2 separate regions of the Homo sapiens genome follow, and region 1 is linked to region 2. The links come from fine-mapping of genetic effects on gene expression. A gene starts in region 2. The other region holds a variant in brackets. All regions are shown on one strand. Distances are from middle to middle.

What was found.
Region 1: its variant is fine-mapped to the expression of SKI in whole blood (TOPMed, PIP above 0.99).

Annotation. Positions count from the first base shown.
Region 1 is chr1:2,304,669-2,316,849 of GRCh38, reverse strand. SKI (SKI proto-oncogene) reads right to left here. Exons shown (of 7, transcript NM_003036.4): 6 at 10,600-10,830; 7 at 6,637-10,273. The coding sequence ends at 10,085. It overlaps LOC124903824 (a long non-coding RNA gene), which reads right to left and starts at 1,855. Exons shown (of 4, transcript XR_007065362.1): 1 at 1,822-1,855; 2 at 852-904; 3 at 1-458. RefSeq lists enhancers at 789-1,542, 3,023-3,676, 9,563-10,196 and silencers at 1,414-1,703, 1,854-2,013, 2,104-2,223. The variant C/G (reference allele first, on the strand shown) is at 7,835.
Region 2 is chr1:2,223,229-2,235,409 of GRCh38, reverse strand. It overlaps SKI (SKI proto-oncogene), which reads right to left and starts at 7,091. Exons shown (of 7, transcript NM_003036.4): 1 at 5,675-7,091. The coding sequence starts at 6,643. RefSeq lists enhancers at 666-845, 4,163-4,212, 3,859-4,520, 8,350-9,170, 10,525-11,025 and 1 more and a silencer at 7,261-8,030.

The sequences.
Region 1 (12,181 bases), 81 kb before region 2:
TGGGAGCCTCAGGCCTGGGCTGAGTAAGCCAGGAGTCGCTGGGCCTGTGGGCTGGCTCAGCAAGACCACAGCTCAGCAAAGTGCGCTCGGGGCTGACCACAGACCCATCAGCCCCTTCGTGTCCTGCCTCCAGGCCCAGGGGCAGCCGGCGAAGGTCAGGCCCAGGGCCTCCCGGATGACAGAGCCCCCAGCTGGGGCTTGCAAGGGGAGCTGCCAGGCCCAGGGCTGCCGGCCCTTCAGCGAGCCCTGGGGAGTCTGCCTGGGGCCAGGGTGGTGCCTGGCTGCCCTCTTGTCCTCAGCTTGACCTCTGGCGGTGGCACTCGTGAAAATGCTGGACACTCCTTCTCCTTGTACTTCCACCTCCCGCCCACGGCAACCAGAGCCAGGAGCCAGGCTGTGGGGGCTCCGAACACAGCTCCAGGGCCAGCAGGGCCTCCTCAGTCTGTGGCGCCGCCTTCCTGAGGACCCGTGGGGAACAGAGGTAGCTGCCCACACCAGCCCCCCAGCCTCCTTGGCTCCTGAGGTGGACCACAGCCAGGGAGGGCCCCCCAACAAGGGTCCAGGCCCTGCCCACCCCTGCCTTACAGCCCAGGAGTCCCCAGGGGGCAGGCCAGGACTCAGCCCCAGCTCTCTCTGCCCCTGCGCCCAGCTGCCCAGCCCAGTGGCTGCTCCCTGGAAACCCCTCGGGGACTGCATCTTGGCTCCCCAGTGGCCTCAGGGAACCAGCAGCCGTTCTCCGGCCTATCTGCAGCCAGGCCCCGTCCTGGAGACCCTGTCCCGCTGCCCCAGACCTGACCCCACTGGGTCCTCATCCACCCACACGTCGAGCATGTCCCCTGCTAGGGCCCCACCTGCCGGCTTCCATCTGGGGACAGGAGAGAGGACACGCATGGGCTCCACGGTCCTGCCCAGGCAGAGAGAGGCAGGCTGAGCACCACGGGGCTGCTATACCCCTGATGGGGTTAGCGGGAGGGGAGGCTCAGTGCCTGGGAACCTGAGGGCATTTCCTTCCACGGAGCTCCAAGCAGAAGCGGCCTGGGGCGCAGCCAGGCTCCCTGCTAGGAGGGCGGGTTTCAGGCCCACAGCTCAGAGCATGGGTGGGGTGCCTGGGCTGGGGGTCCCTGGGCTGATGGCCTGAGGGAGATAGGAGGCCAGGCCTGCAGGGAGCCAGGGGGCCCGTGAGGAGGAGAGACAGCTCTAAGCGGCAGGCCTCGGCGAGACCGCCTGTGTCTCATGGTCTCCTGTGGTTGGATCCACCGAGTCCCCCAGGTCCCTGCGGGTTGTGGCGAGTGGGCTCACGGAGAGAGGGCGGCCTGCGCCCACCTCCCCAGCAACGACTTGGCGGCTGGGGCCTGCGGGCCGGGATGGGGGGTGTGGTGGTTCTTCCCGGGAACGGACCCCCAACTGAGCAGAACAGGGAGGCCGCGCCCCAGAGAGAAAAGCACCCGAACCCGCCAGGCTGGGACCTTCCGGGAGGGCAGGGTTGGCAGGGACCCCCCAACCCCGAGCTCGGCCGAGCTGCAGTTCCCGCTTCCACCGCTGGGGGTCGCACCGCCGCCCCCGCCCCCGCCCCCGCCCCCACCGTGCCGCGGGCGGCGAAACCCGTGAAACGCGCGCCGCCTCCGCGGGGCCTGGGGTGGGGAAGGGGGGACGAGCGGGGGAAGAGGGGTACGGGGGGGAAGGGGGAACGGGGGGGGCGCTTCCTGCCGCCGCCCTGCTTCCCGCAGCGGCCTCTGGGGGCGGCCGCGCCCACCGACGGGAGGAGCCGCAGCCTCTGAGACCCCCGCACGTAGCCCGCCGGTTCGGGGGCGGAATTCCCACCTCGGGAGCCGCCCCCACGCTGCAGGAAGCTCCCAGGGCCTCCCGTCCCGCCCCCCAGCCCGGGCCTGCTGCTCGGACCAGCCGCCCCCGGGCCGGAAGCCCCCGCCCCACCCCGCCGGAATCCAGCGCTGGCCGCGAATCTGGGGGGCGCCGCCCCGGACGGCAGGGAGGGTGGGGTAGCGGAAGAGGCGGCGGGGGCGGGGGGGAAACTGAGGCTGCGGGGGGGAGCCTGAGGCTGCGGGGCTGCCCCTCCGCGTGGGGAAGTGGGGCCCGGCGCGCTCCGCCTGACTCGGGGCCCCCAGTGCCCCCGGACTGGGAACGGAACGGGCGTCGGGGAGGCCGCCCCGGCCCTGAGGACGCGGCGCGGGGCCCGGGACGTGCACCCCTCCCCACCCCCCCAGCGCGGCTTCCGGCCCGGGCGAAGGAGCGGGATTGGGAAGGTTTCGGAGCCGGCGCTGGAATTCCTGGGTAGTTCCTCCGCCACCGCCCTTCCCCCGCGAGGCCGGCCTCCGACGGGGCCTCTCCAGGGTGAGGGGCAGGCCCTGGCCTGGAGCCAGAAACAGGATTTCCCCGGATGCCAGGACAGCGCCAGGGCCGGGGACAGGCCGGGGCCCCACTGCGGGTTTTCTGTCCTGCGCAGCAGTGACCCCGCAGACTTCGCGCACGGGGCGCAGGATGGGGTAGGGGGCCCAGAGCCTTGGTCTGTCGGACCCTCAGCGGCCAGCGCAGGTCGGTGGTCATTTCGGAGTTCCGGCCACTGTCCTGTGCAGGAGTGACCCTGGAGGCCGCCTTGGTTTGGCCTGGGAGGATTCTAAACACGGAGGGGCCAACACCGAGACCCGAGAGACCCCGGCCTAAACCTGACCCAGTGCCGGCCACACCAGCCACGGCCCTCCTGGCATCCCTGGGATCACAGAATGGGACAGCCTCCCCACCCACAATCCCCCCAGGCCCTGGCGAGGGCAGCTCCTCCGACGCTACAGCCTTTTTCCTAGGACTGTTTTTCCTTAGAAACAGGAAGCTGGGGCATGGGCATCACGTCCCTCGGGTGCAGGCCCCACCAGGGGCAGGGCAGAGTGGGGCTGGACCACAGGGCACACAGTACCTTGCCCAGCTCCTGCCCCAGGGTGGGCACAGCAGGGCGCAGGGCGGTGTCCATCTGCAACTGGTAGCCTGGCCTAACCTGGGCATAGCACCGACCAGGGTCATTTCACCCAGCTGGGGGCATCTCCATGAGGGAGGACACGCAGAGCTCCATCGTCTGTCCCTGGTTCCTGCTTGCCCTCCACCAAGACCCCAGCCTGGCCAGGCCCACCTTGCAGGAAGGGCCAGAAGGTTCCGACAGCAGAGAGGGGGACAGGGCTGTCAGGGAGAATCTGGCAGGGCCAGGCCAGGGGGGCAGCAGCTGGCACTGGCCAGGGTACACGGGACCCTCCAGGGTTCGGGGCTGGTGGCCTGCCCGGCCCCCACCAAGGCCTCTAGACGGCCCTCGACCCTCCACACCCCTGGTCTCTCGTTCTAGATCTGGATGGCACCCAATCCTGGTTTCTGGGCTGAGCTGGGCAGCCAGGAGCCCACCCTTCCAAGCCAGCCAGTTGTATCTCCACGGGGCCTGGGCACTTGGCACCCCTATACCTAAGAGTGTCCTTGGGACAGCTGCGGGGAGGGGCAGGAGACTGGGAGACACTGCTGCCTGGGCTGACCCAGGGAGCCCCTGCCTCCAGCCCCTACCTCCCCACCTCCCCACGGTTCCCTGTCCCTGGAAGTTTCTGGAACAGGCCTCCTTTGCAGGAGGAGCCATGGAGGCCGAGCCTGGGCTGCACTTCTTGCCAGTAAGAGCTGCCAGGCCCGGCCATGGGAGAGAAAGGTCCGTTCCCAGCCCGGCTGGACACCTGGCCCAGCACAGGACACTGCAAAGACAAGCCAGGCTGGCCAGGCTGCCCCTGCCGGTCCTCACCCGCAGCGGGGCCACCTGCTCCAGGGCTGGGTGCCCCAGCCATTGAGGCCCCCACCCACCTGGCACAGGCCAGGCACAGATGGCCATGTGCGTCACTGAGACCGGGGGGTGGCAGGGCTGGGCGGGCATCCAGTCCCCAAATGTTCTGTCCTCACCCCCTCCCCAGGGTCCGCTGTGGGTGGAGTAGACAGGGCAGTTTCTGTGGGGAGGGTCGGGACCCCCCCGGGGCCAACACATCAGGGTCACGACCCCATCATTTCTGGAGGGCAGGCGGCCCTGGCCTGGGGGTGTCCCTGTGGGCTCCGCACCTCCTTCCAGCGGAGGCTCCGTGGGGTCAGAGGCCGGGTCGCCTGGAGCAGGACCAGCAGCTGTGCAGAGGCTACGAGAACAGAGTGGGTGGGGGCTGCCTCTTCCTGGCCAGAAGGAAGTGGGGGAGTCAAAGCAGGTGCTGGGACGTGGGGGTGGCCAGGCCTGGGCCAGGATGGGGTCGGGGTCTGGGCCTGTGGGCTGGGGCAATGGGTAGAGCCCCTCATGCAGCCATGAGGGGGTGTCCAGCTTGGGGGCCCCTGGCCATGCCCTTGGAGCACTGCGCTGGGGCAGGAGGGCGGGTTGGGGGTGAAGTGAGGGAGGAGCCGGGTCCCTGCTTAGGCTTAGGGCTGGGGCCGGACACGCGGGGCTGAACCAGTGGCTGCAGTAACTGGTCAGCAGTCTCCACTCCCCACCTAGGACGTGCTGGCCGCTGCCTCCCCAGACAAGGTCAGGCTGCTCAGCCGTTGTCGGCCCCCTTGACCACAGGCTGGTGGGTGAAGGCTGGCAGGACTGTGGCTCCAGGAGGAGGGGGAGACCAGCACAGCTGAGACCTAAGGACAGCTGTTGGTGACTGAGGCAGAAATGGGTGGGGCACAGGGTGGGGCAGAAACTAGGGAGGTGGGGGAGCCCCCATCCCCTTCCCTGAGCTCATCTTCCCCAGACCCCAGCTCTTGGGGGCTTGGGAACAGGCACTGCCAGGAACAGGGGTACTGGGAGCTGCCCTTCCAGGGAGCTGAGGCTGGAGGGCTAACCCGTGGTCCCTGCAGAGGCCCAGGCAGGTGTGAATGCTGGGAGTCCTGAGCCTGAGGATGCAGAGGTAGGGTGGGGAGGGCCATCTCTCTCCCCCCACCTCTGCCCTCCCCTGGCATGGAGGCAGGGAGCTTCTCCCACCCAGGCCTCCTCTCCCCCAGCACTCAGGAGACCCCTGGATCCCTTCGGAACAGCTTTGGGAAGAGGGTTCTGACCCTGGGTGACGGCTGGCCTAGCTCAGCAGGTGGCCAGAGCCCTTTAAAGCTCTAAGTTTATACCCAAAGGTAAACACCAAAGAGAAGCCTGGGGCAGCTTGGGGAACAACTGAGCCCAGAGCACCGCCCCTCCCTGCCCCCACGTGGCTGCTGGAGGCAGTGCCTTTGAGTCTCCGGGAGGGTCGGGAGGGCCGTCATCAAGCCCTGCGGTGCTCAGCTCCGAGGCAGAGTGCCCATGTGGCCACAGGGACGGTCCTCGAGGCCCACCCAGGACCTCGGCCCAGCCCTTCCCCAACTCCTCCCCACTGCACTGGACCCCGGGCTGGTCCTCTGTGCTCACAACTGACTCAGTCTCAGGGTCCTGCCAGCGGCACTCTGGAGCCGCCCATCCTCTGCCCCCCAGAACATGCACGTGCCCAGGACCAGTCCACACCCACTCCTGCTGTGGCCCATGTTCCCCTCGGCCCACGCCCCTGCCCACTGCCCCCAACACCCAGGGGCCTAGCCTGGATGGAGAAGCCAGGCCCATGTGGAGTGGGTGTTTTGAGGCCTGCTGGGGTAGGCCTGTGTGGTCTAGAGGCCGCCCTGTACCCTCCGTGGGGGCTCTATGAGCCCTTTGGGGCCCTGGGCAGGGAAGAAGGAAGCCCCTATGTGGCAGTGAGGGGAGGGCCAGGTCTGCTCTAGCCCCAAGCTTGGGGGCACTTCCCGAGGGGTGGAGAGAAGAGATGGGGACCTGGAAATTGTGCCGGGAGGCTGGGGGGAGGGGCCGGCTGGAGCCCCTACCAGCCCATGCCTTTCTCGGACCACAACCCAGATGACCTATGAGGGCCTGGATGGGCTGGAGATGCTGGATGTGATGGCCTAAGGAAGCCTAGAGAGGTGGTGGCCTGGCACCCCAGGGAGCCCACCCGGGGCTGTGCCTCCATGAAATTGGCATGCGGCATGGCACCTCCAATCCCCAGAACAGGGGTCTGGGAAGGCCCCCCTGTGAGGTCAGGTGGGGAGAAGGGACCTCTGTGTCTCCCTCGGGGCAGCTCGCTGGGGTCCAGGGTTCTGATGCCACCTCCCCTCTCCCCCGCAAGTAACCCAGGAGCTCCTCAGGGAGCTGGCGATCCACCCCTTGGGGACAGGTCTGTCCGTGCGGGAGCTGGACCTTGGCCAACCGCAGGTGCGGCCTCAGAGGCCCCCGTGGAGGCCCAGCCGGGAAGGCCCCATCCCATCTTCTGTCCTGGCACTGCACTCTGTGGGGCTTCCTCCCAGCCGGCCCAAGGCCACGGTGGCCTCAAGCCAGGGCTCCAGCCACATCCAGTGCTACAAGCAGGGACTGCAAGCTCCCTGAATCGCAGAGGAAACCGTGGCCTTGCCCAGCTCAGAGGGGACGGGGACTAGGTGAGAGGGCAGTTGTGCCAGGGCGGCCGCCTGGACCCCACGTGCCCTCGGGGTCGACGGAGACTCCGAGGCCCACAATCTGACCTGTGACAGCACCCCCACCCACGATGGCCTGAAAGCGAGGGGGTCCCAGCCGCCCGTGTGTGGCCGGTCTGGGGAGGGGCTGTGGTGGGCGCACGCACAGCTGTCCCGCGGTCCTCTCAAAGTCCTTTATTGTACAATGTCATCTGTTTCGGGGTCGGGGAAGGACTAACAGGTACACAGCGAAATAGATAAATATGCCAAGCTCTTTTCTTTTTAAATCAGGCATTTATAAACAAGAAAGCATACATTAATTACATAAAAATAGTTTCCGAGTAGCAGAGTAAGCATCATACTGTCGTTAGCAGCAGCGTGGGGCACGGGCAGGGGCGGGGGTCTGGGTGATGTTAAAGGTAGAGATGGAGCTTTTTCCTTAATTGAAAAAAAAAAGTCATTTGTGACTCCTGACTTAAAGCGAGAACGAACATCTCCCTGGACCCTGGTGGGCTGAGGGAGGGGTGGGGGGGCCGGGGTTCGGACCCACAGGGAGGAGGGGGTGGGGGGGGGGCCGGGGTTCGGACCCACAGGGAGGAGGGGGTGGGGGGGGCCGGGGATCGGACCCACAGGGAGGAGGGGGTGGGGGGGCCGGGGTTCGGACCCACAGGGAGGAGGGGGTGGGGGGGCCGGGGTTCGGACCCACAGGGAGGAGGAGGTGGGGGGGGCCGGGGCTCAGACCCACAGGGAGGAGGGGGTCACATGGGAAACGCACATGGGTTTCTCCGTCTCCCCTGCCCCCCGGCAGGAAAGCATTTTTTTTTTCCTCAGTTAAAAACAGCCCAGAAAACAAGACAACTCTCAGGTAAGAAAAGAGTTTCTGAAAAAGGACCCAGCATATACATGTATAATACAACGGTGAAAAAGGAAAAAGTATTTACAGGTGAACTGTTTTTACATTGGCTAGTTCTGTACGAAAAGCAGACATTACGTGTATGAGTTAGCTGCTCCAGAGATATGAATGTTATTGCTGTTGTTTTTCCCTTCGTTAAAAATCTTCTTTCAGTATAGAAATATAATGAGAATTAAACTGAATACACAATCACTTAGATGAAGGGCCTCACACACAGAGGAGTCAGCAGCCCACACAGCGGACACCTCTTCCCCCTTCTGCTGAAAAGAAACGGACTCGCACCTGTGCCAAGGGGAGCCAGGCGTGCACCCCTCGGGGCCTGGGACCCCTCAGTCCAGAGCAGCCCTGCAGCCACAGCTGCCCCCTCAGGCCCCTGACAGTGGAAGTGACCCTGGTGAGCCGAGGCAAGAGCTGTGGGAACTGCCTGGGAGGGTCCCGAGCTCGCCTGCCCACGTCCGGGTCCCA[C/G]TGACCGCACGGGCCTGGCAGCTGCAGGAAAGGGTGGGCCCAGGTGACACTGGCTGGACCCTCCCAGAGCCGAAGTGGGGAAGGGCTGCCACTGCAGATACAGCGCTTTCCGTTTGGGGCAAGATGGGGCGGTGGAGGCGTGGACCCAACGGTGACCGTCGGGATGGAGCAAGGGCAAGGAGAGGCTCTGGCCCAGACACAGCTTGGAAAAGCTCATCTCCCTCTGGGGTCTAAAAACTCAAAGCAAACGGAGCAAGCCTGGCGGCCCTGGGGATGGGGCAGGGCCTCTACCTCACTGTGATCTTCGACCTGGCGACACAGGACAGCCACACAGAAGCACGCCAACACACTTAAAGCTTTGCTCCAACTAAATCATTTAGTTTCCCTTGAAGAAATAACTGAAAAAAAAAACAACTCTGGTAAAACAAGGCTAAAAACAGCATTCTGCATGTTGCATAACAAAACCGACCCTTTACAAGACACGGTAATAATGCCCGCTGACGGATCTACCTACGGCAGAGGTGTGGAATCCATGCACACAGAACAACCGCAAAGAAAACAAAAGCAAAGAAAATTCCAAACAAACGCTGCATATACATGATGTCCCTTTTGCATTGCACTTTAGAAGGGGTGGGGGGCTTCAGCAGCAACCAAGACCCCCCTCAGTAAACCAAGGGCAAAACCCCGCAGGCAATTCCGCCACCCAGATGCGAGGGCTCAGCAGTCTCTGGTCTTTGCTCGTCACTGCCCCGAGGTCGTCTGTACCTGGGCAAGTAACCTCCACCTTCTGTGAGCGCGTGCAGCTGCCGCGGGTGTTAGAACGGATTCAAGCAAAGAACTCCTGTAAGATCTTCTTATGTAAATAAATACCGTAACTGTAGGATAGGTAGCCGCCTCTTGTCTACTGGGAAATCATTTTTCAAGCTTGGGCATAAGAAACCTTATACAATTTGCATAAACAGGTGAGAGTAAACGAGATTATTTGGAATAAATGCAAGGAACTTATTCTGAGAGTGGCAGATTCAGTCGCTACTGAAGACAGATATCTTGGGGGTAAAAAGACACGAGTCAGGATTTGCTGTACAAGATGCTGGAAGGCACAGAACGACCCCCGAAGTTCAGTTTTTGCATTTTCGTTTTCTTGTGATTCCCTTGTTCAACCAAGCACCAGAGGGGGTTTCTAAGCACTCGAGCACTTCGGATTTGACTGCTCTATAAATCGGTAAAAACCTCAGTTCACTGGGGAATAGAAAGAGAAGGGAAGGTTGTGGACAAAGTGCAGTTCTAAATATACGTTTAAATGAACGAACAAAAAAAAAGAAAGAAAAATTGAAATAATGCTCTTTTGTTCCAATGCTGCAGCCTCAGTCCCAAAATGAAGGGAGCGACGTTTGCCGAACTGAAAAGGGTCGCCCGGTCAGGCGGCACGTGTGCCCGGAGGGGCTGAGGGCGTGACCGCCAGCCACGGTCACCACCCGACGCAGGTCAGTGCCTCGTGGTGGAGGAGCGTGGGCAGAATCACGGGGTGCAGAGGAGCCGAAGACCGTCCCCTCAGCTCCGGGGCAGCTCCTGTGCGGCTCTGCACTTCCTGGTACCCGTGGGGACAGCGCTGGCATCGACGGCGGCGTGGCGGGCGGGGTAGGCGGCAGTAAGGCGGGCAGTGTTCGAGCTCATCTCGCACGCGGCACTGTCCCTGCTCTCCCTGGCAGCAGCAGGAAGACCTGGGTCCTTGTCGCTGAAAAAATAGACTCTGAAGAAAAACCCCTGCTGTCCTCACGCAGCCGCGGGCAGATGAGCTGTGATGGCTTCCCCGGGTGGGGAGGGTGGGGCGGCCGCCACCCCCACTCCGTTGCGGGTCTTCAGATGGCGTCATGTGTTGGGGCTTTTAGAAGTTAGTCATTTAAAAATGTGTTGATTTTCTGAATTTCAAGTCTCCTTACTGGTTTTAAATAGCTTATAACAAAAGTGTAAATGTTAGAATGTTCCAGCAAGCAGAGGACCAGCAGGCCGCCGAGCTGGCCCCGTCTCCAGCTGTAGTTGGGGGACGCGGCTTACTCACTTGAACTTGGCCAGTAGAAAATTTTGCAGTGGGTTCCAAAACTACATGGTTACAAACACTCGCTTGGTAATAGGCACGGTAAGACGTTGTGCTGTGTGGGCTGCAGGGGCGGAGCCGGGCGGAGCTGCACCGCCCAGCCGCGCCCCCCTGCACCCGCGTTGTCGGCGGCGCTGCGGCGGCAGGCACGGAATCTACGGCTCCAGCTCCGCAGCGCCCTCGCTGCCCGCAGCCTCGGGGCGGGCCCGCGGCCACAGCTGTTCCTGCAGCTCCTTCACCACCTTCTCCAGGTGCTCCCGGGCCTCGCGCTCCCGCAGCAGGTCGGCCCGCAGCTGCTCCCGGTCCGCCTCCGCGTGCTGCAGCTTCACCTGCAGGTCTTCGATCTGAAAGGGAGCCGAGTGGTCAGCGGCGCCTGCTCGCTGCCCTGCCCCGGCCCGACGCTGCTTCCCCCACCCGAGGCTCCTGCGCCGCTCCCTGTCCCTCCCCAGTGCCGCGTGCCGGCCCCTCCTCCACCTGCTAGGACACAGGCTCACGAGACGCAGGGCCCAGCAACCACCCACCCTGTGCCCGTCGGGGGGGCACGCACGGAACGTGGTCCCGGGCCTGGCTTCTGCTCCAAGGCCTTTCCGGCTGGGCAGGACTGGCCACCGGGGCCCACGGCGGCTCCACGCCCACCGTGCTGCGTGCCTCAGTCTCCCCACCCGCATACCTGGGCCGAGTACTTGGCGCGCAGGCGGCCCGCCTCGCAGCCCTTGTCGCACACCCGGGCCTGCCGCGCCTGCTCCAGCTCCCGCTTCAGGCGCAGCCGTGACTCGTTGGCCTCTTTCATCTTCTTCTCGTTCTCGGCGCGGAGACGCTCGATCTCCTTCCGCAGGTTACGCTTGGCCTCCGTGGCCTCCCGCAGCTTCTCCTTCTTGGCCACGCGTAGGAACTCCAGCTCCTGGGGGCCGGAGGCGGCTCGGGGTCACTGCCCAGCCGGTCCCAGCACACCCCTCACCATGACCAGCAGTCCTCAGCCCACCCCGTGGGGTCATCTATCTGACAATGTGCCCTGGAGCCCCGCCCCCAGCGCGCCATCAGCCCAACCCGTGTGGTGCCCCGACCCCACAAAGGCTTTTCAGACCCCCATCCGGAGTTTCCGCCAGGCCTGTGGCAGCTGTGCTAAACCTGGGGGCCTGAGTCAGTCACTTGAGGCTGCGGCGGGGCCTCCCCCGGTATCTAGGGCCACGTTCCCCTTGGGGGCAGCAAGCCAAGTAGGCCCTGGCTCCCATCAATGTGAGGAGGGCAGCCTCAGACATCGCACCATCTGAGGGCCCCGGGTCTCCCCACGCAGCCAGATGGACACGTCCATCCGCCCGGCGCCTCCGCAAGCCCCCCCACTCTCCCCATTAAAATATCCGTGTGACTCACACCCCACGCTGCAAACACACCACATGAATATGTATGTGGGAAATCACACCTCCAACCAGAATCAAGGACAACAGTGGCGGGGGACGTGCTGGGGCGAGGGACTGGCACGCGCAGGAGGGCACGTCGGCAACCCTGCAGCTCTGAGGGCCGACGGGGTTGTGTTGTGCTAAAGCCCACGCCGCGGAAGCTGCCAGACGCCGCCGAGGTGTGAATTTAGCGAGGCCGGGGCCCGGTGAACAACGGGCCGCCTGCACACCTCTCTCCCCAGGCAGCTCTGCCTGTGAACCGCACTTCCCTCAGTCATGTCAGAAAGAAACCTAAACAACGTAAAAGGAGGCGCGAGACCGGAGCTGCAGCGTGAGAACCGTGAGGCAGAGCCCAGAGAAGCAGCGTGTGCAGGTGGGTGTGTGTGTGTCTGTGCGGGCCGAGCCCTCTCCTTCCTACTCGGGAGGCCTGGCGGGAGCCGCCTTCTGGAACACCAGGCATTAGTAAGCACGCCCCTCACGCCTGTGTTTTGCAGACGCCAGGTCTTGCTGGCGGAGCGCGTGAACACCCACTCCTGGAGCACACAGAGCAAGGAACTGTCTCCATGCAGCTGCTCCCAACTCTTTCTGCCACTAAAAATAGCCCGGCCTCCCTTATACCAGAGAAACATGGCTACTTCCTCAGTGGGGCCACCACGCAGGGTGTGTGATCCTGATGGGGAAAGCTGTGGTCAAGCCAAATGTAGTGGCCTCCTGGGATGTCCATCAGCCTGGGGACACTGAGGGGCTCACCATACCCAGGGCTGCAGCTTTTGGGAGACGGACCCCCAAGGTCCCAGGCAGGCCCACTGAGGTGGAGGCAGAGAGGAGCGCATGGGGCAGCCAGGAAGGGAGGAG
Region 2 (12,181 bases):
CAGTGGGGGCGACCCCTCCAGCCCGCAGACCCCGGGGATGCCTTCCGTGGCAGAACCCACTCCAGGGGCCAGGCACAGTGGCTTATGCCTGTAATCCCAGCACTCTGGGAGGCCAAGGTGGGCAGATAACTTGAGGTCAGGAGTTCGAGACCAGGCTGGCCAACATGGTGAAACCCCATCTCTACTAAAAATACAAAAAAATTACTTGGGTGTGGTGGCACACATCTGTAATCCCAGCTACCAGGAGGCTGGGGCAGGAGAATCGCTTGAACCCAGGAGACGGAGGCTGCAGTGAGCCAAGATCGCACCACTGCACTCCAGCCTGGGCAACAGAAACAGACCCTGTCTCAAAAAAAAAAAAAAATAACAACAAAAAAAAACCCTGCTCCAGACCACGAGGGTGACAGCCAGGGCAGGGCAGGAAGGAGCCGCCCTACCACCCGCTCTGGAGGCCAGGTGTAAAGAGCTGGTCCCCAGGCAGCCCCCCCTCCATGACACCCTGGCCTGGTGACCACTGCTCAGGAGGGGAAGAGCCCTGAAGAATAAGGACAGGGGCCTTCTTTTCCAGCTCTCCCAGATATTAGGGAAATAATTCACCTTCTGTATTTTGACTCAAAACAAAGAAACTTTTTAAAAACATTTCAGTTGAAGCTTGCATAATTCTTCCAGTGGAGAAATCCTCCCTCAACTTTCGCAATCCTTAGAAAGAGACACATTATTGCCACAGAGAGCCGGGCCGCCGGCGTGGACACCTCCTGCCAGACAGTCAGGGCCCAGGCCCCGGAACCACCGCCTTCTCTCTGGAGGCCCTGCCAGCAGCAGTGAAGGCCTAACCTAAGCTGGGGCTGTGGCCCCACAACCCCGAGAGACTCCAGGGCGGGGTTCGGCTCACACTTACCCCAGACTTCCTCGCACCATATCCTGTCTGCCCTCACCCGGAGACTCAGACAGACAGACATTGCACAAATAGCCGCAGGGACGGCTGAGAAACAAGATGCTGAAAGAGAGGACTAGCCCCCCCACCGTGACCCTGCTGCCCCAGAAGGCGAGGGACCCAGCCCAGCTCCCAGAGGGGTCCCAGACAGACGGATGACAGACCATGCCGGGAAAATGACCACTAAGCTCTGCTCCCTGCAGAAGCCACCTGGGGGCAGCTGCCCATGCCCTCCCCAGTCCGTGCACAGCCAGCTGGGGTGGGCAGAGGTCAAGAACCACTCTCGAGCTGCTGTTTCCCCTGCTTGAGAAGACTCAGCAGCCGGCCGTCTTTCCGGAACCCTCACCTGGGGGGCAGACCAGCCCAAACCCGCAGACCCTGGCCTTCTGCACGGGGACCAGGGCCTGCCGGGAGCCTGACCCCAGAGCATGGCCCAAGACTACAGGGAACCCCACGAAAAGCTGGAGAAAAACACTTGCAGCAAACACTTTTTCCAAAGGAAGCTGGTGGACAAAGGGACAGATAGCCCCCGAAGTGCTCCCCGGACCTGAGGGTGTCTGGGAGAGCACAGCCCCAAACCCACACACGGCCGCTGAGCTGAGTGAGGGGTGTCCCAGAAAGAAACTCTTGATGCTGTCCCTTCCTGTGATCATTTCAGCTTAAAACAGCAAAGAGCAAAACACAACTCCTCCCCAGAGGCTCTCCAAGCCCAGCAACCCCTTCCTGGCCTCCACAAGCTCAGTCATTCCCCAGAACAGACCTCGAGACTCAAAGGTCTCAAGCCCGACCACCTGGCTGGGCACCTGCCTGAAGAAACGCTGCCTGGGGCCAGGGGCAGCCTTGCAGTGACACGGGTCAAAAGCCAGCATGAGGGATCAGAAAACCCCCGTCGCGGACCCTCCACTGGGAAGCGCGCAGAGCTTCCCAACCAAGCGACCCTCAACCCACAGCCCACTGAGACCCACGCCAGCCCACACAGCGCAAGGGCAAGGGGACCTGCAAGACCCCTGGGAATTCAGGCATCTGCAGGACAGAGCAACAACACTGTAACACAACCCAAATTCTCCAGTCACCAGAATGCCCAGACTGCACGTGGCAGGTGAAGAACAGCTCTCACACAGGCAGCCCACCGCCCCTAGGAACAGGACGCCCGGCCCCCTCGGAGCAGGACCCCCGGCCCAGAACAGGACCCTGGCCCCCTCAGAACAGGATCCCGGACCTCTGGGAACAGGACCCCCCCCACCAGCCCTGTTGGAACAGAAACCCCGGCCCCCTCGGAGCAGGACCCCCCCTTGGAGCAGGATCCTGCCACGGCCCAAGGGAAGCACGGCACCACCCTGTTATCAGCCTGCACGGAAAGCGCTTGGCTGACGTTCTGCGGGACAAGGGGCCGCGTCCCAGGCAGCAGGCCAAGCGGCAGCTCCAACTGCCACATTTTGTCTCCGTCTCTGACAGCTGTCTATACTGACAAAAAAATGTAGTCCAATGGAGTCCTACAGCTATCAGAGAACCCGAGGAAGGAGGCGAGCCGACCGGAAAGAAGAAAGAGGGGTGGGAGTGGGGAAGGCTCAGAGGCTCCAGTCTTGGCTAAGTGCTCCCAGCAGCACAATGACCCATCTGTGCCCCACCTGTACCACTCAAAACATAAAGTCCAAGATCAATAAACAGTAGTCCCCAGTTTACACTGAGGCAGAGAGGTTAAGCAACTCGTCCAAGGTCACAAAGCCAGTGTGGGACCGAGTGGGGAGGTGAGACAAGGTCCCCTGTCAAGGATAGCAGCCCCAGGGTCCCTAAGAGGAGACTCGCCAAGCACCCATGCAGCCCACATGGTCTTCCAAGATACAGCAGCAGGAAGCTGGCCGGGCCCGACAGCCACTGGACAGAAGCGGAGGCTTCCTCTGTAACCCCGTGACATGAGGGGGCATCTGGAGGAAGACTGTCTGCCCCTCATGCTGCCACTGCACTGCCGACAGGCCAGAGGCTCAGGCACAGCCGCTGTCACAGGAGGCTTCCAAGGAGAAAGCTGCAGCCCTGCCTCCCACTTGGTTTGGGACCCGGGAACATCTCCGCCCTCTCCCACCTCCCACCATGGGTAGGAGAGTGGCGCTGACCCAGCCCACTCAGGCAGGAGACCCGACCCTGGCCTGGCCACAAACACCCGGAAGGCAATTCAGCCCCCTCCGGCTCCGCAGAGCCCGAAGGCCTGCTGGGAGCAGCAGCCCTGCAAAGAGAGTTCCAGTACATTCTTTGTTCTGCCCTCATCTTCGGCAGATCAAAAATATTAAAATAAGCTACAAAGGAAGTGAAGAAATCAAAACATATCCCGAGAATAAGCTGTCAAGACACGAGTGGGAGGAGCCAACGGCGGCCAGTGAGGGCGGAGGCGGGGCCTCCCAGGCCACTCCTTCTAGGACAAGTAGGGTCTGGGCACTGTGGGTCCACGCCCACCCTGAGACCACACTCCCTTCTCATGTGTCGCTCCTGTGCACACAGAGACACGCACACGGCTGTCCTGAGGAGACTTAAGGGGACCCTGAAGCCCAGAACTCCCAAGTGCACAGTCACAGAGCCTAAAGGGCAGGCACTGAGCGAGGGCAGAGTCCCTGGCCGCCATCCCACGTCAAGAACATAGAGCAGGAGGCAACACGGGCAGGATGGGTGCCCCACCCCCAGGAGCATGAGGAGAGGAAAACCCGCAGGAGCTGGTGAACATTCAGGGAGCCAGGCGGAGGACACCACTGCCAGGGCCAGGCTGTGTGGCTGCCACTCAGGCCTAGAGGACGCAGTCACTCACACCGTGCACGTCGTCAGTATGGCCTGGGAATTGCTTTTTAATCGGTAAATGAAATTTCAGAGCAGTGCTGGGGACTTCAAAAGGGAAAGGCGGCTCGGAGGCATCCGCTGAGATGACCAGAGCCTGTCTGGCCTGTCTCTATGGCGGCCCAAGGACCCCGGCGCTCACAACCACAGGGAGAGAGAAGCCGGGTGGCCTGGGCCCTGCTCTGTGTCAGCTGTGACAACGAGGCCCCACTGGCCACTCCAATGGGCCCCCAGCAAAGCCCAGGAAGACAGAAAGACCACAAGCACACACATGACCCACAGTCGGACAAAAACAAACGCAGACACACCCTGCTCAACCGAGATCCTCTGCCATCAGCTCTGAAGACAGTGACGTGAGCGTGTCCCAGCAGCTCAGGCCTTGGCCACAGGTGACCCACTACGCAGCCTGCACGAGCCCACAATCCCCCCCGACATGTGGCTTCCTCCAGCCACAGGCACTGACGAGGGTGCGGCCACCCCAAAAAGAAAGGCCCCAGCCCACAGGGAGCGCCATCGGGCCCACCCCAACCAACTCCCCGTGTGACACGAAGGGCCCCAGCCTGCTACGTCTGTCTGCAGCTCTGCCACGAGCATCCTTCCCCAGCCCACAGGTCTGCAGGCGGCTGCCACCTGAGCCCTGGCCTGGCAGGGTCAGAAGCGCGCACACACAAACACACACATGCACACACACATGCACCCTCCGCAGCCCCCTCCGAGCAGAGGCGACAGTCCCTCGCTTCCATCCACAGCCCCTCCTCCCCACGATCTGACACTCTGCTGGAGGGGCGCCCAGAGAAAACCGGGCTGGAGCATCTATTCACAGATTTAGAAAAAAAAAGTTTGATGCAATAGCTGAATTAATTAGGCCTCCCAAGAATAGCTGAGCCAATGCAGCATTCTGTGTGTGCAATTTAATAAGCCTGGATATTTAAAAGAAAAGTTACAAATACTTGGGGAGGTACGCAACGGAAAGTTCCTGAGGACCCCACTGAGTAATTTCGGCACCTCGTGGCCTGGGAGCTGCCCATGCCGGATCCCATAGATCCTCCAACTGGCAAACAACAAAGCCAGGCCAGCAGCCTCCCTCTCCGGCGCACCCCTCTGCGTTTCAGAGGGAGAGAAGGAAATGGGTGAGTCCAAAGCAAATCGCAGGCCGCCAGTAACTCCAGCACGCGGGCCCAGGAGCCTGCTGACCAGGCCCCTCAGCCGGGTGCCAAATGGCCCTCACCCCACACGGCGGACTCTGGGATTTGGTCCCTGGCAGGCCCAGGGAGACCAACCAGCACAGTGCTGGAGCCGCCAAGTCTCGGGCCCCTGCCACTGAAGCCTGGACACCTGGCTTCATTTTGTGTCTGTGTCCCAAAACTTCAAGGCACCAAACAGGGAGCGGGAGCCAGTAACAAAACCAGGCCTCGCCTCACCCAAGCTCTGTCTCCTGGGGCCCAAAGGCAGGCAGCCCTCCGTCTTCGAGGCTGGGTGCCTTCGGGGCGAGGACAGCCACCTTCACCCCAACCCCAAGAAAGACCTGGGCCTGAGGCATCCGGGCCGTGGCCCAGCTGGACCTAACTTCCCTGACCTGGGGCAGGCCGCTTTCTCGGGAGCATGAGGCCTGTGCCTTCCTATCTGGGCAATGCCTGTGGGCCTGCGGGCCTTCCCCACACACCAGGCCTGGCCCCCCACCCCACCGCCACAGCCCGCACTCCAGGCTCGTCCTGGGGAACGGGCAGGAGGGCCTTCCTACCAAACTCTCTGGCCCTGCCAGTCGGAACACTCTGAATTTCCCTAAAACAAAGCGAAGACTGGAGACATGGGGCACGGCAGAAGCACAGGTCCCAGCCTTCGGAGACCAGAGCCTGTAGTCCAGAAGGGGCCCCCACCCCAAGCGCATCCTCCCCAGCTCCCAGGCCTGGGGCCACTCACCCGGGGCACCCGCCGCTTGTACTTGTTGCCATAGTCGAATTTCTCCTTCACGTCGTCCAGGCAGCGGCCGAGGCGCGCCTGCTCCTCCTTGCCCGTGTAATCCTGGCTCAGCAGGATGTAGGCCCGCCAGTTGGCCGAGTCGAAGCCCCAGTGGCAGGTCCGGTTCTCCAGGGCCTTGTGCGAGTGCACCACGAACTTGTGCGGCGGGTACATGAGGCGGCAGTCCAGGCACTGGATGCAGGCGGCGCTCGGGCTGCTGTAGAGCTCGGGCACCAGCAGCCCCTTACACTTGCCGAAGCACTCGTGGTACACGCGGACGCTGCGCTCGCTGAGCTCCAGGCCCAGCGCCAGGCTGGCGGCCAGCTCCTTCTTGCAGGGCGGCGGGTAGGCGCCGCCGTAGAGCAGCGCGTTGCACAGGCGCTCGGCGTCCGTCTTGGTGATGAGCCCGCACGAGGGCGCCGAGAAGGGCAGGATGCCCATGACTTTGAGGATCTCCAGCTGGTCGGCCGTGCAGCGCGAGCAGTAGATGTGGAGCTCGTCGCACACCGCGTTGATCTGCTGCAGCGAGAAGTCGCGCAGCACCGAGTTGAGAATCTGCGGCAGACACAGGCGCTTCTCGCCTCCCACCACGAAGCACGAGATGGTCTCGCCTTCCAGTACGGTCTCGCAGCGCTCGGTGGAGCGGTCGGACGGCATGAAGAAGGGCCCGGGCAGCACGGGCGGCGGCGGCTGGATGGCGGGCAGGTGCAGCACGGGCGGCGGCTCGGTGGCTGCGGGCACCGGCGCCGGCACCGCGGCCGCGCCCGCCTCCTTGGCGCTCTCCTTCTTGTAGGCCTCCTGCGCCCAGCGCGCCGAGAAAGCGGCCGGGCCGCCCAGCGAGCTCATGGAGCTCAGGTGGAACTGCTCCAGCGTCTTCTGCAGCCCCGGGTGCGGCTGGAAACAGCCGCGGCCGCCTGCCGCCGCCTCCATGGTGCGCTCCGGCTCCCCCGGCCGCTCCCGCTCCCGCGCGCCCGGGCCCCCCCGGCCCCCGCCGCCGCCCCGCGCGCCCCGGCGGCGCCCGCGGCCCCGACCCCGGCCGCCCCCCGCCGCCGGCTCACGGCCGATCACGGCCGCGGCCTCGCCCGGGGGCGCGAAGGGGAAGGCGGGCGGGGCGAAGGGGTCCCGCCGCTGGAGCCCGCCGCCGCCCGGGCCCGGCGCCACATCCACGCGCCCCGCGCCGCGCCCGCCGCCGCCCGGGCCCCCCGCGCGTCCCCCGCGCGCCCCCCGGGCTCTAGGCGCGGGGCATGCCCCGGCGCGCGCCGCCAACGCCAACGCCAACGCTCGCGGGCCCGGGGCTCGCGGGGGGCGCGCGGGCAGGTGCCGGCGCCGCGAGGCGCGAATCGCCGCGGCGGCCGAGGCCGAGGGGCCCGGGAGGAGCGGGGGCGCGGGCGCGGGGCCCGCCGGGCCGTCCTCGCGCGGCGCGCCGCCGCCGCCCCGCTCCTCCCACCGCGAGGCGCCCGCCCGGCTCGTCCCGGCGGCGCTGGCCGGCCGCGTCGCGCCCGCCGCCGGCCCCCGGCCCGCCCGCCCGCCGGCTCCGCGGCCCGCCCGCCCGGCTTCCGGGGCGGCGGAGGCGCCTCTCGCCCGCGGCCCTCAGAGCGCGGCGGCGGCGCGGGGCTCGGGGCGCTCGGCGCACATCCTCCCGGCGGCTCGCTCCGGCTCGGACTGAGCGCCCGGCGCTGAGCTCACGCCGCCGCCGCGCCGCCCCGCCCCGCGCCGCCCGCTCCGCCCCGCGCCGGCCCCGCCCCCCGCGCTGTTTGTTGCCGTGCGTCCGCCTCAGCCCTAGCGCTGGCCAAGAATGTGACCCGCTCCCCAGCCGGGCTCTTCCAGGAACGCGCGCTCCCCGCCCGGACTCGGCCGCGCTCGGCTCCGCTCGCCCGGGACTCGGCCACGCTCGGACCCGCCCTGCCATGACTCGGCTCCGCTCGGCCGGGACTCGGCTACGCTCGGCCATGCTCGACTCCGCTCGGCCCCGCTCGGCCCCGCCCGCCGAGGGCCGCTGGGCGCGGGCGGAGGCGGAGGCGGCGGTGGCGCCCGGGGCCCCCCTTCCGGCCGAGGCCGCTTCCTGCGCCGCTGGGAAGGCGCCCGTCTCGCCGCCGTCGGGGCCCAGAAACCCACAGGCCCCCGCCACGACCGCAAACCAGCTGGGGGCGGCCGGGGGGCCACGCCACGCACCCGGGGTTCTCCCAGGGTGGGACACCACACAGCGGGGAGGCCCCGGACGCCTCTGGGGTCCCACACACTACCGGGACGCCACACGGTGACCTGGGGTCCCACACACGAGGGGGACAGCGGCCACGCCCAGGGACCCTGCGCCGAGACGGGCACCGCGTCGCGTGACCCTGGCGGCGCAGCCCGGCGGCCCCCGCTGCGCCGTGGCCGGTGGCTCGGTGGCCGAGTGTCCGCGGCTCCCGGCCGCGCCGGCCCCGCCCCGCCCGCCGGCCCCTGGCGGAGTGTCCCTGCTGCGCGGGCCGGGGGCTTCGGGCCTGGGAGGGGCGGCGCCCGGTGCCCCAGACGCAGCCGGTCTGCCAGCCACTCCTGCCAGGTGGCTTATCAGGACTTCGGCCCCGCGGGGCCCGGCGTTCGGGCCGGCGAGACCCCTGACCTCCGCCCCGGGGCCGTGGAGCGCTGAGACGTCTTTCGGGGTCGGATCGGCCGGCCCTCCACGCCTGGCCACGCAGTGGGAGAGACTCAAGCCTTGGCAGGGCGGGGAGCGGGAAGCCCGGGGCCCCGAAGTTGGACAGTCGGCCGGGTGGTCTCCAGGGGAGGCAGCTTCCAGCGAGGCCTGCGGGCGCAGGGACGCAATGGTGTGTTTGGGGAGGGGCAGGGCTCGGTCTGTGCTCGCCTGAGGCGGAGGGACATGCCCCACGGGCCGGGGGTGCCCAAGCTGGCCTGGGTGCTGGGCGGAGGCGAGAGGGCCACGCCGCTGCAACCTGAGTGACCTTCAGCTGGGACCTCCTGCCCCTCACTTCCCCAGTGGAGGCTGGAACCTGCCTCAAACCAGCACTCCTGGGCGCAGTTCCTATCCTGGGGGAGCCGGCCCGGAGTCCCTGTGCAGGTCTTGGCCGGACCTGCGGCAGGGCAGGTGTCTAGAGAGGCAGCCAGGACCTACCTGTAGGTGACCCCAGGGCGGCTCCATACTCCCTCTCTCCGCTGCCTTGGGGGTTGTCTCCTTGTCCTCACACTCCACACTGTCCCCCGACTCTTCCCATTCACTCCGTTGGCCCCCACAATTGGAGGCCAGGCTTTCTCTGTGTGTTCACACACCAGAAAGCTGGGTAAGAAGATCATTTCCTTAAAAGTGATATTTAACCCGGCAAGGTGGCTCACGCCTGTAATCCCAGCACTTTGGGAAGATAAGGCAGGCGCATCGCTTGAGCCCAGGAGTTCAAGACTAGCCTGGGCGATATAGTGAGACCCTGTCTACAAAAAATAATTTTTTTTTTTAATTAGCCGGGCATGGTGGCCTGCACCTGTGGTCTCAGCTACTTGAGAAGCTGAGGTGGGAAGATTGCTTGAGCCCAGAAGGTTGGGGCTGCGGGGAGCCGTGCTTGAGCCTCTGCACTCCATCCTGGGTGATAGGGACACACCCTTTTTTTGAGACAGACCCTGTCTCAAAAAAAAAAAAAGGGTCAGCCTCAGTGGCTCATGCCTGTAATCCCAGCACTTTGGGAGGCCGAGGCAGGCGGATCACGAGGTCAGGAGATCGAGACCATCCTGGCTAACGGTGAAACCCCGTCTCCACTAAAAATGCAAAAAATTAGCTGGGCGTGGTGGTGGGCGCCTGTAGTCCCAGCTACTCAGGAGGCTGAGGCAGGAGAATGGCGTGAACCTGGGAGGCGGAGCTTGCAGTGAGCCGAGACTGCGCCACTGCACCCCAGCCTGGGCGACAGAGCGAGACTCCGTCTAAAAAAAAAAAAAGGATATTCAGTCCAGACGCAGGGGCTCACGCCTGTAATCCCACCACTTTGAGAGGCTGAGGCGGGTGGATTATTTGAGATCAGGAGTTGGAGACCAGCCTGGCCAACATGGTGAAACCCCCTCTCTACTAAATATACAAAAATCAGCCGGGCATGGTGGCACATGCCTGTAATCCCAGCTACTCGGGAGGCTGAGGCAGGAGAATCGCTTGAACCTGGCAGGTGGAGATTGCAGTGAGCTGAGACTGCACCACTGCACTCCAGCCTGGGCGATGGAGTGAGACTCTGTCTCAAAAAAAAAAAAAAAAAAAATAGAAAAGGGACTTATTTGTTTTCCTGGAGATAGTTTCGTTGGCCCACGTTTTGGACAAAACACAGCTAGTGTTGCACTTGACGTTGTCACTTCCTTCCATCTGGATTTGAATTCCATACAACTCAGTCAAATTGTAACTCAGAGAAGGTGGTTGCAGCCAGGCCTGCTGGGAAGTGTCTCCAATCAAGCAGAGAATTCCTCTGGCTCCTCTGGTGGACCAGGGGCTCTGTGCAGGGCCCCTAGCATGGGCAGTGCCCACCCAGAGCCTCTGCTTCCTTCTGTGCCTCTGGCTTTGCAGGGTCCTAGCCAGGGACCAACACTTTGTCCAGAGTGCGGACCCCTGGGAAGTAGCCATAGGTGTGCCATGGAGTGAAGGTGCGGGGACAGGTGAGGGCCTCCAGTTGGTCTCTGAAGCTACCTCCACCTTTGTGGACTCTTGAGACTTCCTTCCCCCAATATGTCAGAGCTTCCAGAGGAAGGCACCCACCCCACCAAGGGTCAGAGCAGCCACGCCTAGAGGGAGCCACCAGGGTCCACTTTTCTTCCTGAGCTTGGCAGGGAAGAGGGTGGGGGGTGTCTCCCGCCTGCTGGCCTTCCACCCTCCAGCCCCGCCCAGCAGCTGCCCAGGCCAGTCGCCCACGCGGGCCACCATACTGGCAGGCCGCGGGTTAAGGCTGCAGGCACAGCCACAGCGCGGAGTAGGGTGGGATGGACGTGGTGCCTGCCCAGAGAAGCCCTGGCATGCGGGCAAAGGCAGGGACCTCCCAGCTTTCTCCCTGGCCCCTACCACGGTGACAGGCTTGGTCAGCTAGTCATGAGTTTGTCCCCTTGTTCGATGAGCTCCTACCACTGTAGACACTGGGATCAGGGTAAGGAGACCAGGTTGTACCCCGTGTGGTTCCATTCTGGTGTGAGAGACAACAGTCAATCAACAAACCTGCTAGTACGGGAGCGAGATCTTTCAGATCCCCAAAAGGCGCGGAGTGGCTGGGGCTGGCTGTAGGCAGGGAGGGCCTCCTGGGAGGCTGGCCTTGGAGTTGAGACCCCCACCTTAAGGAGCCAGCAGTGTGGAGATGAGTTGGATGGCGCCCCAGGACCAGAAAGAGGAAGACACTGGCAAAGCAAGGGGTACCCCAAGCTTTGGGGGAACTTGGAAACCTTGGTGGGGAAATGCATCGCAGACCAGCTCTGCTCCACCCTGCCTTGCCCTGCCCTGCTGCCACCCACTCTCTCCTCCTCAGGAAGCAGAAGGAAGGCCTTGTAGCAGCCAGGCATAGACTGCCATTGGCAAAAACATGCTCAGTTACTGGGAAAGAAACCTTCAAATGTGAAAATAAAAATTGCTCAAGTAACATCAGCTTCGTATAATTTTGTTTTGTTTTTGTTTTTGTTTGAGATGAAGTTTCGCTCTTGTTGCCCAGGTTGGAGTGCAATGGTGCGATCTCAGCTCACTGCAACGTCCATCTCCCAGGTTCAAGCGATTCTCCTGCCTCAGCCTCCCGAGTAACTGGGATTACAGGCGCCTGCCACCATGCCCAGCTAATATTTTGTATTTTTAGTAGAGACAGGGTTTCACTATGTTGGCCAGGCTGGTCTTGAACTCCTGACCTCAGGTGGTCCACCTGCCTCAGCCTCCCAAAGTGCTGGGATTACAGGCTATGCCACCGTGCCCGGCCAGTAGAAATTTTAGAAAGACCTTTGTCTTACTTTGGATTCCCCCAAACATAGGCCCTGAGACAAAGATTTTTATTTTACTTTATTTTATTTTATTACTTTATTTTTGAGACAGAGTCTTCGCTTTGTCATCCAGGCTAGAGTGCAATGGCACGATCTCGGCTCACTGCAGCCTCAGCCTCCTGCATTCAAGTGATTCTCATGCCTCAGCCTCCCGAGTAGCTGGGATTACAGACATGCGCCATCACACCAGGCTAATTTTTGTATTTTTAGTAGAGACGGGGTTTCACCATGTTGGCCAGGCTGGTCTCAAACTCCTGACCTCAGGTGATCCGCCCGCCTTGGCCTTCCAAAGTGCTGAGATTACAGGCGTGAGCCACTGTGCCTGGCCTTTTATTTAATTTTTTATTTATAGAGATGAGATCTCACTATGTTGCCCAGGTTGGTCTCAAACTCCTGAACTCAAGCGCTCCTCCCCTCAGCCTCCCAAAGTGCTGGGATTACAGGTGTGAGCCACCGCGCCCAGCCAAGACAAAGATTTGAGTTCGAGTGCTTTGCTTGGGA